2 separate regions of the Homo sapiens genome follow, and region 1 is linked to region 2. Evidence: fine-mapped expression QTL. A gene starts in region 2. The other region holds a variant in brackets. All regions are shown on one strand. Distances are between the middles of the regions.

Region 1 (5,378 bases), 28 kb after region 2:
GCGCTCACCACCAATAGGGCCAGTCACGGTTTTCTAAGTAAGTGCCTTCCATGTATTATTTCATTTAATCCTGGGGAAAACCCTATAATTGCAGCTAACTGGCTTTCCGATGAGATTTATTGAATCCTGTCTTGCCAAAGGGCACCTGACTGTGAGTCAGCCTGAGCCCAGTGGTGGCTGCAGTCAGAGGTAAGGATATAAACCTGAGAGAGACAGCAAATGAGCAGCCTGTAGTTTTATTATCTTTAGTAGTTACTCAGCCCTTGGCCTGCAGATACAGCTCCTGTGAATCCCCTTTCTGTGTTCTATTAGGTTTACATTAAAATGGCAAAAACCGCGATTACTTTTGCACCAACCAAATACTTCCATATCCAACTACTGCTAGACCCTTGTGTGTGTGTGTGTGTACGCTTATCCACACACACACACACACGTTACTGTACAGTCTGTGAGGAGTAAAATCCTCAGTGCTTAGGATCCCAGAGTCAGTTATTTTGTTTCGTCAGAAAGACTGTCCTGGCTGCCACCTACATGGTTATTATGTGAGTTCTGCCATGATTCCAGGGATCTGCTCAGCTCTGTGGCATGGGCCCAGTTTACTCATAAAGCATCTTGTGACCAAGCACAGTGGCTCATGCCTGTAATCCCAACACTTTGAGAGGCCAAGGCGGGCAGATCACTTGAGGTCAGGAGTTCAAGACCAGCCTGGCCAACATGGTGAAGCCCTGTCTGTACTACAAATATAAAAATTAGCTGGATGTGGTGGTGCACTCCTGTAATCCCAGCTACTCAGGAGGCTGAGGCAGGAGAATCGCTGGAACCCAGGAGGCGGAGGTTGCAGTGAGCGAAGATCACGCCACTACACTCCAGTCTGGGTGACAGAGCAAGACTCCGTCTCAAAAAAAAAGACCTCTTGTGACTGCTGTCTTTGCTTTCCTTCCTCCATCTGAGGCTGTCATAGCAGATGCCGCCCTCCATCAGGCCCCTTGTCCCCCTCCCTTTGGCCGTCACTTCTTGTCTGACATCTTTTGTGAAGGTTTACCCTGTCTTTTTTCCATTTGCTTGTGATGTTTATATTCACACATTCCGCTCTTCCCCTGTCCCCTGTCTAGGATTCTCCACAGTCACATACTCATTTTTCACAACTTCCTTGCCTCCCTCCCCAACCCCATCATGTCAGTGTGATTTTAGATTACACTCCATATATAGTTTTATATGCAGCATTTTTTCACATAGAAATTTACTGTGAACGTTCTCCTTTTTATTAACTATCCTTCCAAAACACACTTTTAAGTTTTTCTTGTGTGGAGTGACTATTACTGAGCCAACCCCTACTGAACATTTGGTTTATTTCCTAATTTTTTACTCTTAAACACTGACCTTTTTTTTTTTTTTGGAGACAGAGTCTTGCTCAGTCTCCCAGGCTGGAGTGCAGTGGCGTGATTTCGGCTTACTGCAAGCTCCGCCTCCCGGGTTCACTCCATTCTCCTGCCTCAGCCTCCCGAGTAGCTGGGACTACAGGCGCCCGCCACCACACCCGGCTAATTTTATTTTGTGTTTTGAGTAGAGACGGGGTTTCACCATGTTAGCCAGGATGGTCTCAATCTCCTGACCTCGTGATCCACCTGCCTCGGCCTCCCGGAGTGCTGGGGTTACAGGCGTGAGCCACCGTGCCCAGCCAACACTGACCATTTTTTTAAAAGTTTTCAGCTGGGCAAGGTGGCTCGCACCTGTAGTCGCACCACTTTGGGAGGCCGAGGTGGGTGGATCATTTGAGGTCAGGAATTCAAGACCAGCCTGGCCAACATGGTGAAACTCTATCTCTATTAAAAATACAAAAAAAATTAGCTGGGTGTGGTTACGCATGCCTGTAATCCCAGCTACTAGGGAGGCTGAGGCAGGAGAATCGCTTGAACCTAGGAGACTGAGGTTGCAGTGAGCTGAGATCGCACCACTGCACTCTAGCCTGGGCGGCAGAGTGAGACTGTCTCAAAAAAAAAAAAAAAAGTTTTCTTGTATACAAATTTTTCTTTGCATCTTAGATTATTTCCTTAGGATAAACTCCTAGAAAGGGAATTACCTGGACCAAAGGATATGAGAACATTTGTAACACTCTTGATACAAATTGTCAAAATGACCTCCAGAAAGATGATATGGTGTCTTTTTCAAAGGAAAAGTTAAAGTGCTTTTTAAGATTTAGAAGGTATTATCTTTTTGCTTTTCACAGGGGACAGTCAAAACTTCACAGGGGGGAAATCAAGTTAAATTCAGAGCTGGATTTAGATGATGCCATTCTAGAGAAGTTTGCTTTCTCCAATGCTCTATGCCTTTCTGGTAAGTTACTACTGCTTATGGGATAGGGTACTACAGTTGTCATTTCACTGAGGGAAGTTTAAATAGTCACGATTTTGGTATATTTTCAGAATACTCAACAAAGCCTTAGCATTCCTTTTCCTTTTTTTCCCTCCATCAGAAAAAATATCTAGTATAAAAGATAGTACTGTGCTGAAGTTACTCATTCCTTATTAATTGTATTAATAAAGCTTAACCTCTCCAAAAGTATTTTTTAGATGATGATTATATTAGCCTTTGTTTTTTTCTCTTCTCTCTATGCGATTGTTATTCTTAGATAGTCTCTAATCCAGACAGAGAAGCCCAGCCTTGTGTGACTGGGCACAGGTCCCAGTGTAGAAAAACATACTCTAGTGTTCCATAGGAATGGGACCCAGAGTCACAGTGGCTATAAGTTTGTTCTGAAAGATCCACATCCCGAATAAAACTATACAAGTTCTTTAAGAATTTCTTTTGCCAGCAGTCTACCTTAGGTGGCTGCTGCAGCGTCCTGTCCATCCCACTCTGAGGGGCTTCGGAGATTTCTGAGGTTTACTCTTAGTCCTGAGGAGTGAAGGGGAGGCCAGGAAAGTCTTAGTC[G/A]CGCCCTATCTGCAGAGCTACCCATGGTATCAAGGTGTACCCTACCCTCCTCAGTTTCCAAGATGTAATACTAGAAAATCAAGAGTTCTACTAAATGTAGCTTTGGTCTTCCAATAGGGCATGGAAAGCGATTCAGTTTCCTCTATCCACTTTAATTCTGTCCTTTATGATAATTAACTATTCTTAAATTATATTTTCAAGGTTTTAGTACTTTTTCTTAAACTATTACTGAAATAGTAGTGAAGATGCTGTGCAATTATGTATTTTATATACATGTGAATATGATGATAAAGAAATGTTCCATTATTAATTTTTTTCCCAGTAAAACTGGCAATTTGGGAAGCATCACTGGATAAATTTATTGAATCTATTCAGTCAATTCCTGAGGTAATTATATCAATTTTATGCTTATTCAAGGATTGATTTTTATATGTAAAAAATATGAATTTCCCAATATAACAATATATAGCTATCCATCAGTATCCATGGGAGATTTGTTCCAAGACCCCACTGGATACCAGAATCTACCAGTGTCCAAATCCCTGATATAAAATGGTATATATTTGCATATAACCTATGCATATCCTCATGTATACTTTCAACCATCTCTAGATTACCTAAAATACCTAATATAATGTAAATACTATGTAAATAGTTGTTATACTGTATTATTTAGGAAATAATAACAAGAAAAAACAGTTTGTACATGTTCGGTACAGATGCAACCATTCTTTTTTCTCAAAATACTGTCAATTTGCAGTTGGTTGAATCTGCAGTTGCAGAACTTATAGAGGGCCGATTGTTTAGGAGTACAACAACATTATTACAAACAATAAGAAAACTACAGTAAACTTAAGAACTCCCAGTTACATATAAAATGACAAATTAAGAAACTTCATATTGATTACTTTTTACTTTTTAAAACTTCAAATTGTTTCCTCTGTTGGTGCAGTATTTTTTTTTTAATATTAATATAATTGAAATGGGGTCTGGCCATGTTGCCCAGGCTGGTCTTGAACTCCTGGGCTCAAGCGATCCTCCTGCCTCGGCCTCCCAAAGTTCTAGCATTACAGGCCACGAGCCACCATGCCCGTCAGTTGCAGTATTTTTAATGTAACTGAATTAAAGAAAAAAGTGAAATGTTTCTCTCTGAGAATGGAAATTATGACCACTTTTCCTGATTTAAGAAAGTGTTTTGCTAAATTATGAGAAAAATAGTGGTATGAAAAATACATATAAAGTTATATTGAAATTTCAGTATACATTAAAAATCATCATATTGTAATTAACTGTGTCTTTATTGTGAAAGAGTAATCTAATTATACTTCGGAAAGGAGGCCCTGCTTTTCTACTAAGAGATTAGGAATGTATATATCATTGAAAATGCTGATGAGAAGGGAAATGAAAAAAGAGAATATACAATTTCTACCTAATAAAATTATGAAATTTCAAGGTGAGTTAAGACATTAATCTGGGAGACAGCCATCCTAAAAAATATTTACATAGGATCCAAATTATGCCACTTCAGATTTTGCCCTGTTGACCTAATGCTTATTAGAAAGAGAGATACATGGTTTTTTGGTTTTTCCGATTCCCTCTCAACTAGGCTTTAAAAGCTGGGAAGAAAGTGAAACTATCTCATGAAGAAGTTATGCAGAAAATCGGTGAACTCTTTGCTCTAAGGTAAAAGTTTTCTCTCTAAATAAAATATTTCATATATTTAACAATCTCAAGAAAACATTCCCATAGTTCTGTGGTGAAGAGCAAACATTTACACGTTTATGGGAACTGTAGCTGTTTTCATTTCATTGATTATAAGCAGGGAGAACTCTTACCCATTAGAAGTAGTTGGGCTGTGTTAAGACTGTACTGAAAGAAATCACGCATGTGCAAAAGAGATCACGATTCATCTACATTAAACCCACATTAAGGAGCACAGTAGGTGTTCTTTGAAGGTAGAAAGACATATTCCTGAATTTGGTTAATGGGAATTCTCTGTAAAAATATATCACTGCATCATAATGCTAAATAGGCTTAATTGCTACAGAAAAGTTTCTTTGAATCTGAGACACCAAGATGCCACTGGAGAGAAAAACTGCTGCCAGTTAAACTATGACAATACTTTTTTTATCAGAGGATTAAAATTTTACACTTACTGAAATATCTTTTAATCTTAGCTGGATATAAATTATATCACATTCCCTCTTGGGCATATATGAAAAGGAAAGCATAAGAAAATAAATTATTTAAGGCAAAGACAAGTAAGTCTCAAGTGCCACCTGTCAGACACCATTAATTTTAAGATGCCTCGAGATGTTAAAATGGGAATAACTATGTCTAAAAACTGATGAATCATTTTAAATAAGTATCTGGAAAGGTTTTCAGCTTTTATTATTCTTGTAGTTGTCCCAGGATTTACGGAATGAAACATCCCGGATGTTGGTGTT
Region 2 (5,378 bases):
GTGATAGGATAGGGAATGGATTAGCTTAGAAATCAAACAGGCTCTTGTCCCAGGTCTACTATCTGCTAAGTCACCTGCTTAGAAAGATGAATGAAGCAATGCATCTAAAACCACCTAAAGGGTCTAATGTGCTTGAACAACATAAAGAATTAAAGGTACTTTTAAGCCTGTTTCTCTCCATTCTGTCTATTTTCTAAGTCAATTTTAATTATTTTCAAAAATTTTCCCCTTCTCTGCCTTCTCTATCTGCACAATGGACTCCTTCCATCCTATTCTGCCCCTAAGCAAATGAAGGCGTGCTACTGTCTCTTCCCACTCAAAAAATCAGAGATTTTATAGAAGTGTTCAAGAATGAAGCAAGCTGGAGATGAAGAAAAACTTATACCTGCATTAAAAAATTAAAGATATTCTTGATTTTATTCATACAAAACCCAAGATTTACAGATTATCATTTTATATCATTCTAAGGAAATACATGATACAGGTAGAAAAAAAGCTTTATTTGGTGGAGAAATTCTGTGCAGTTTTAAATATAGAGCACAGAGCTTAGCTGACTAGTGTTTTTATCTCCAGATCACAGGAGACAATTGTTAAATTACTAGATTGTAACTTGGGTATTTCTTCAAAAGGTTTCCTCAAATGATAGCTATAGAACTTTAAGAAAAAAACTGCACACACTTTCCGACTCTGTGGTGCTTTCAGTACCACCCAAAACAGTGATTAGGTTTTAATGCGCATAATAACTACGTTGATCAGAATTTAATTTTTAAAAATCATTAATAAAAGAAATCACTAATACCTCAGAGGGTGAGCAGGAACATTAAATCAACTGTCACTTGAATTTTCCCAGGCAGTAGGTATAGTAAGTCCTTTTTTGAGATTTTACTTTAATTGGAAAGTATTACTGTTTTCCTAACTACTACATTTCCTGCACCTCTGGAACAAAGTCTCTGGCCAGGACTGGAGTGAGGCCAGAAGCCCTAGGGCGCAAAATTGAAGGAGATACTCTCTATACTTGCATGACCTGAAACAGTGACTGCCTCAATTTGGGGCCATTGGCGCCACTTTGTTGGCCTCAACCTACTTTCTGCCCAGGTTTATTTTCTTCAAAGTGTTCTCGTCTTTTGCAATATTTTGAAGTAAGGACAAATTTCAAATATAAATTTGGCCATTCGATTTATGCAAATGGATGTTATTTGCACGGTCACCCACAACTTTACCCAAGAATCAGTAGCGTGACGACTATAAAGCAAAAAACTAGACAGTTCTTACTGTGAGATTACGATTTGATCAACAACAGGGAGAAACCCGTTTCTTAATAGCGCTGAGATCCCCAACTCTTACGCAGAATTTTAACGCCCCCAAAGCGCGTCTATTAAAGTGAATAAATAAAAAGTGACCGCCAGGAACAGACCGCGAAGCTGACCCCTGTCCTGATCCTTACGAGCAGCCGCCGCGGGCAGGCTCCCTCCCCGGGGCCGCCTCCCTTCGCCTCCGAGCCAGTCCGCGAAACCCGCAAAGGCGCCCCGGAAAGCCGCGCCCGGCGGCGGGACTCGAACGCAGCCCACCGGGGAGCGGGCGCCCTCCGCTTAGTCCCCACAGGCTCCCGGCGAGGCCCGGCTTTCCGCAAAAGTGGGGAGGAGAAAAGCTAGACTAACCCCACGTCCTGTCCTGAGAGAGACGCCGGGACGACAGCCATCACTTTCCGCGATCCCGGCCGCAAAGCTCGGCTGTTCAATCGCCGCAGAAACAGAGGCGGTACCGCCGCGAAGGAGGAGCTGAGAATGGGGGTGGTGTGGCTTTAAAAAAAAAGTGCTTTTGAATAAAGAAACTTTATTTGGTGCCCGATCAAACGGCAAACAGTGGCTCGCCAGAAGACCCAATCTTCCGGGGACGAAGGCGGGGCCAGCGGAGGGCGACTAGAGGAGCGGATATGGAAGCGAGCGAAAGCCGGAAGCAGGCAAGGGACCGGGAGGTCCCAGGGCCTAGGGAGCGGAAGAGGTCGCGGCGACGCGGCTCACGTGGTCAGACAGTCACGTGGCCCGAGTTTCTCCCGCTAAGTGGGACCAGAGTTCAGTGCGGCTGCGCAGTAGCGGGGGTGGGCGGGAGCGCCCTTCCAGGAGATGGGTTGGCTGCAGTAGTGAGAGGCTGGGGGTGCGGCTCTTTCCCTGCAGTCCTGCCGAGGAAGCGTGCGTCCCTGGCGCTTCCTTCTTCTCTTCCGGCGGAGAGGTTAGTGTATTGCCTTTTCTTTAGCAGCTCGAGTGGTCCGGCTTGGAGGTCTGCGCCCTGGCTCCTGGCCGCCCGGAACGTGTACAGTTACGGGTTACGCCAGTGCGGCTGTGACCCTTTGCCTCTTACCGTGATCTTTGGTCAGCTTAGCTGGGAGTAAAAAGCACTCAATTAATGAACCCTTTTTTTGAGCCAGTGCACCGCGGTAACTGTAGAAATCGATAAAATAATTTTGAGTTTGAGGAATTGAACGGCATACTCCCAAAGATGAGCGCCACTTAGCTCTCGAATCGTAGCCTAGCTGTAATCGATTTTCTTAATTGGTGTAATTGTTCTCTAAAAGTTGAAATGTGCCCGGGAACTGAGTAACTGCCTTGTATTTCATTTTAAAAATTCGATCGAATGCCTACTATGTGCTGGGCGCTATTGTCAGGAGATATAATAGGAAAAAACACAAATCCGTATCCTCAGGGAGCTTCCATTCTGGAAGGAAGACACAAAAATCTGCCCTTTCCTCTTATTTTTTTCCTTTAGCTTTGTGTCTCACGTATTTTACTGATTTACCTCGTTTTGTCTGTCACTCCCAATGCAAGGTTCAAAAGATTCAAAAGATAGGATTTTTGTCTATTTTATTTTCAGCTGTATTGTCAGCAACTAGGACAATACCTGGCACATGATAAGAACTGAGTTCGTTTGCAGTATGAATTAATAAACTAAAAATTAAAGGTGTGCAAGTGATGTTAAACAATGGAGAAATGCAAAGTGGAGGAAGATAAGAGAATGGATGCTGGTTGTGTTTTTTTTTTTTTTTTTTTTTATTGATCATTCTTGGGTGTTTCTCGCAGAGGGGGATTTGGCAGGGTCATAGGACAATAGTGGAGGGAAGGTCAGCAGATAAACAAGTGCACAAAGGTCTCTGGTTTTCCTAGGCAGAGGACCCTGCGGCCTTCCGCAGTGTTTGTGTCCCTGGGTACTTGAGATTAGGGAGTGGTGATGACTCTTAACCAGCACGCTGCCTTCAAGCATCTGTTTAACAAAGCACATCTTGCACCGCCCTTAATCCATTCAACTCTGAGTGGACACAGCACATGTTTCAGAGAGCACAGGGTTGGGGGTAAGGTCACCGATTAGCAGGATCCCAAGGCAGAAGAATTTTTCTTAGTATGGAACAAAATGAAAAGTCTCCCATGTCTACTTCTTTCTACACAGACACGGCAACCATCCGATTTCTCAATCTTTTCCCCCCCTTTCCCCCCTTTCTATTACACAAAACCGCCATTGTCATCCCGTCCCGTTCTCAATGAGCTGTTGAGTACACCTCCCAGACGGGGTGGTGGCCGGGCAGAGGGGCTCCTCACATCCCAGTAGGGGCGGCCGGGCAGAGGCGCCCCTCACCTCCCGGACGGGGCGGCTGGCCGGGCGGGGGGCTGACCCCCCCACCTCCCTCCCGGACGGGGCGGCTGGCCGGGCGGGGGGCTGACCCCCCACCTCCCTCCCGGACGGGGCGGCTGGCCGGGCGGGGGGCTGACACCCCACCTTCCTCCCGGACGGGGGCTGGCCCCCCCACCTCCCTCCCAGACGGGGTGGCTGGCCGGGCGGGGGGCTGACCCCCACCTCCCTCCCGGATGGGGTGGCTGGCCTGGCGGGGGCTGACCCCCACCTCCCTCCCGGATGGGGTGGCTGCCGGGCGGAGGGTCTCCTCACTTCTCAGATGGGGCGGCCGGGCAGAGGCGCTCCTCACATCCCAGACGGGGCGGCGGGGCAGAGGTGCTCCCCACATCTCAGACGATGGGCGGCCGGGCAGAGACTCCCCTCACTTCCTAGATGGGATGGCGGCCGGGAAGAGGTGCTCCTCACTTCCTAGATGGGATGGCGGCCGGGCAGAGACGCTCCTCACTTTCCAGACTGGGCAGCCAGGCAGAGGGGCTCCTCACGTCCCAGACGATGGGGGGCCAGGCAGAGGCTGCAATCTCGGCACTTTGGGAGGCCAAGGCAGGCGGCTGGGAGGTGGAGGTTGTAGCGAGCCTCGATCACGCCACTGCACTCCAGCCTGTGCACCATTGAGCACTGAGTGAACCAGACTCCGTCTGCAAACCCGGCACCTCGGGAGGCCGAGGCTGGCAGATCACTCGCGGTTAGGAGCTGCAGACCAGCCCGGCCAACACAGCGAAACCCCGTCTCCACCAAAAAAGTACGAAAACCAGTCAGGCGTGGCGGCATGCGCCTGTAATCGCAGGCACTCGGCAGGCTGAGGCAGGAGAATCAGGCAGGGAGGTTGCAGTGAGCCGAGATGGCAGCAGTACAGTCCAGCTTCGGCTCGGCATCAGAGGGAGACCGTGGGGAGAGGGGGACCGTGGGGAGAGGGAGAGGAGGGAGAGGGAGAGGGCTGGTTGTGTGTTTTTAATGTAGTGGTTGGGGAAGGCTTCACTGGGTAGAAGACATTTTAGCAAACATCTGAAGGAGGTGAGGGTGTGAGCCTTTCAGATCCCTGGGAGAAGAGCGTAAGGAACAGCAAGTGCACAGATCCAGAGACCAGAATGAGGAGCAAAATAAGCAAAGGAGAGTGCTGTCAAAGTGGTGATAAAGGACAGATAATGTAGTGCCATGCAGGCCATTCTGAGGGGTTTAGCTTTTTTTTTTTTTTTTCGTTACAGAATCTCACTCTGTCGCCCAGACTTTAGTGCAGTGGCGCGATCTCGGCTCACTGCAACCTCCACCTCCCGGGTTCAGGCGATTCTCCTGCCTTGGCCTCCCGAGTAACTGGGATTACAGGCACCCGCCGCCACGCTCAGCTAATTTTTTTGTATTTTTAGTAGAGACGAGGTTTCACCATGTTGGCCAGGCTGGCCTCGAACATCTGACCTTGTGAATCACCCGCCTCGGCCTCCCAAAATGCTGGGGTTACAGGCGTGAGCCACCGCGCCAGGCTTTTTTTTTTTTTTTTTTTTTTTTTTTGAGACAGAGTCTCGCTTTGTTGCTCATTCTGGAGTGCAGTGGCGCAATCTCCGCCTCCCAGATTCAAGCCATTCTCGTGCCTCAGCCTCCCAAGTAACTGGGATTATAGGCCCATGCCACCATGCCCGGCTGATTTTTGTATTTTTAGTAGACACGGGGTTTCGCCGTGTTGGCCAGGCTGGTCTGGAACTCCT

The links. PIP is the estimated chance that this variant, and not a neighbour inherited with it, causes the effect.
Region 1: its variant is the best candidate, but not a certain one, in a credible set for the expression of RMND1 in stomach (GTEx, PIP 0.57).

What each region holds. Positions count from the first base shown.
Region 1 is chr6:151,420,481-151,425,858 of GRCh38, reverse strand. It overlaps RMND1 (required for meiotic nuclear division 1 homolog), which reads left to right. Exons shown (of 12, transcript NM_017909.4): 7 at 2,228-2,334; 8 at 3,254-3,318; 9 at 4,538-4,614. Among named protein-coding and RNA genes, the nearest start is that of RMND1, 29 kb to the left of the region's middle. The variant G/A (reference allele first, on the strand shown) is at 2,932.
Region 2 is chr6:151,448,867-151,454,244 of GRCh38, reverse strand. It overlaps RMND1 (required for meiotic nuclear division 1 homolog), which reads left to right and starts at 2,119. Exons shown (of 12, transcript NM_017909.4): 1 at 2,119-2,229. It overlaps DCPH1 (damage control phosphatase 1), which reads right to left and starts at 1,779. Exons shown (of 5, transcript NM_024573.3): 1 at 1,659-1,779. The coding sequence starts at 1,699. RefSeq lists a silencer at 1,422-1,541 and enhancers at 1,702-2,151, 2,342-2,391.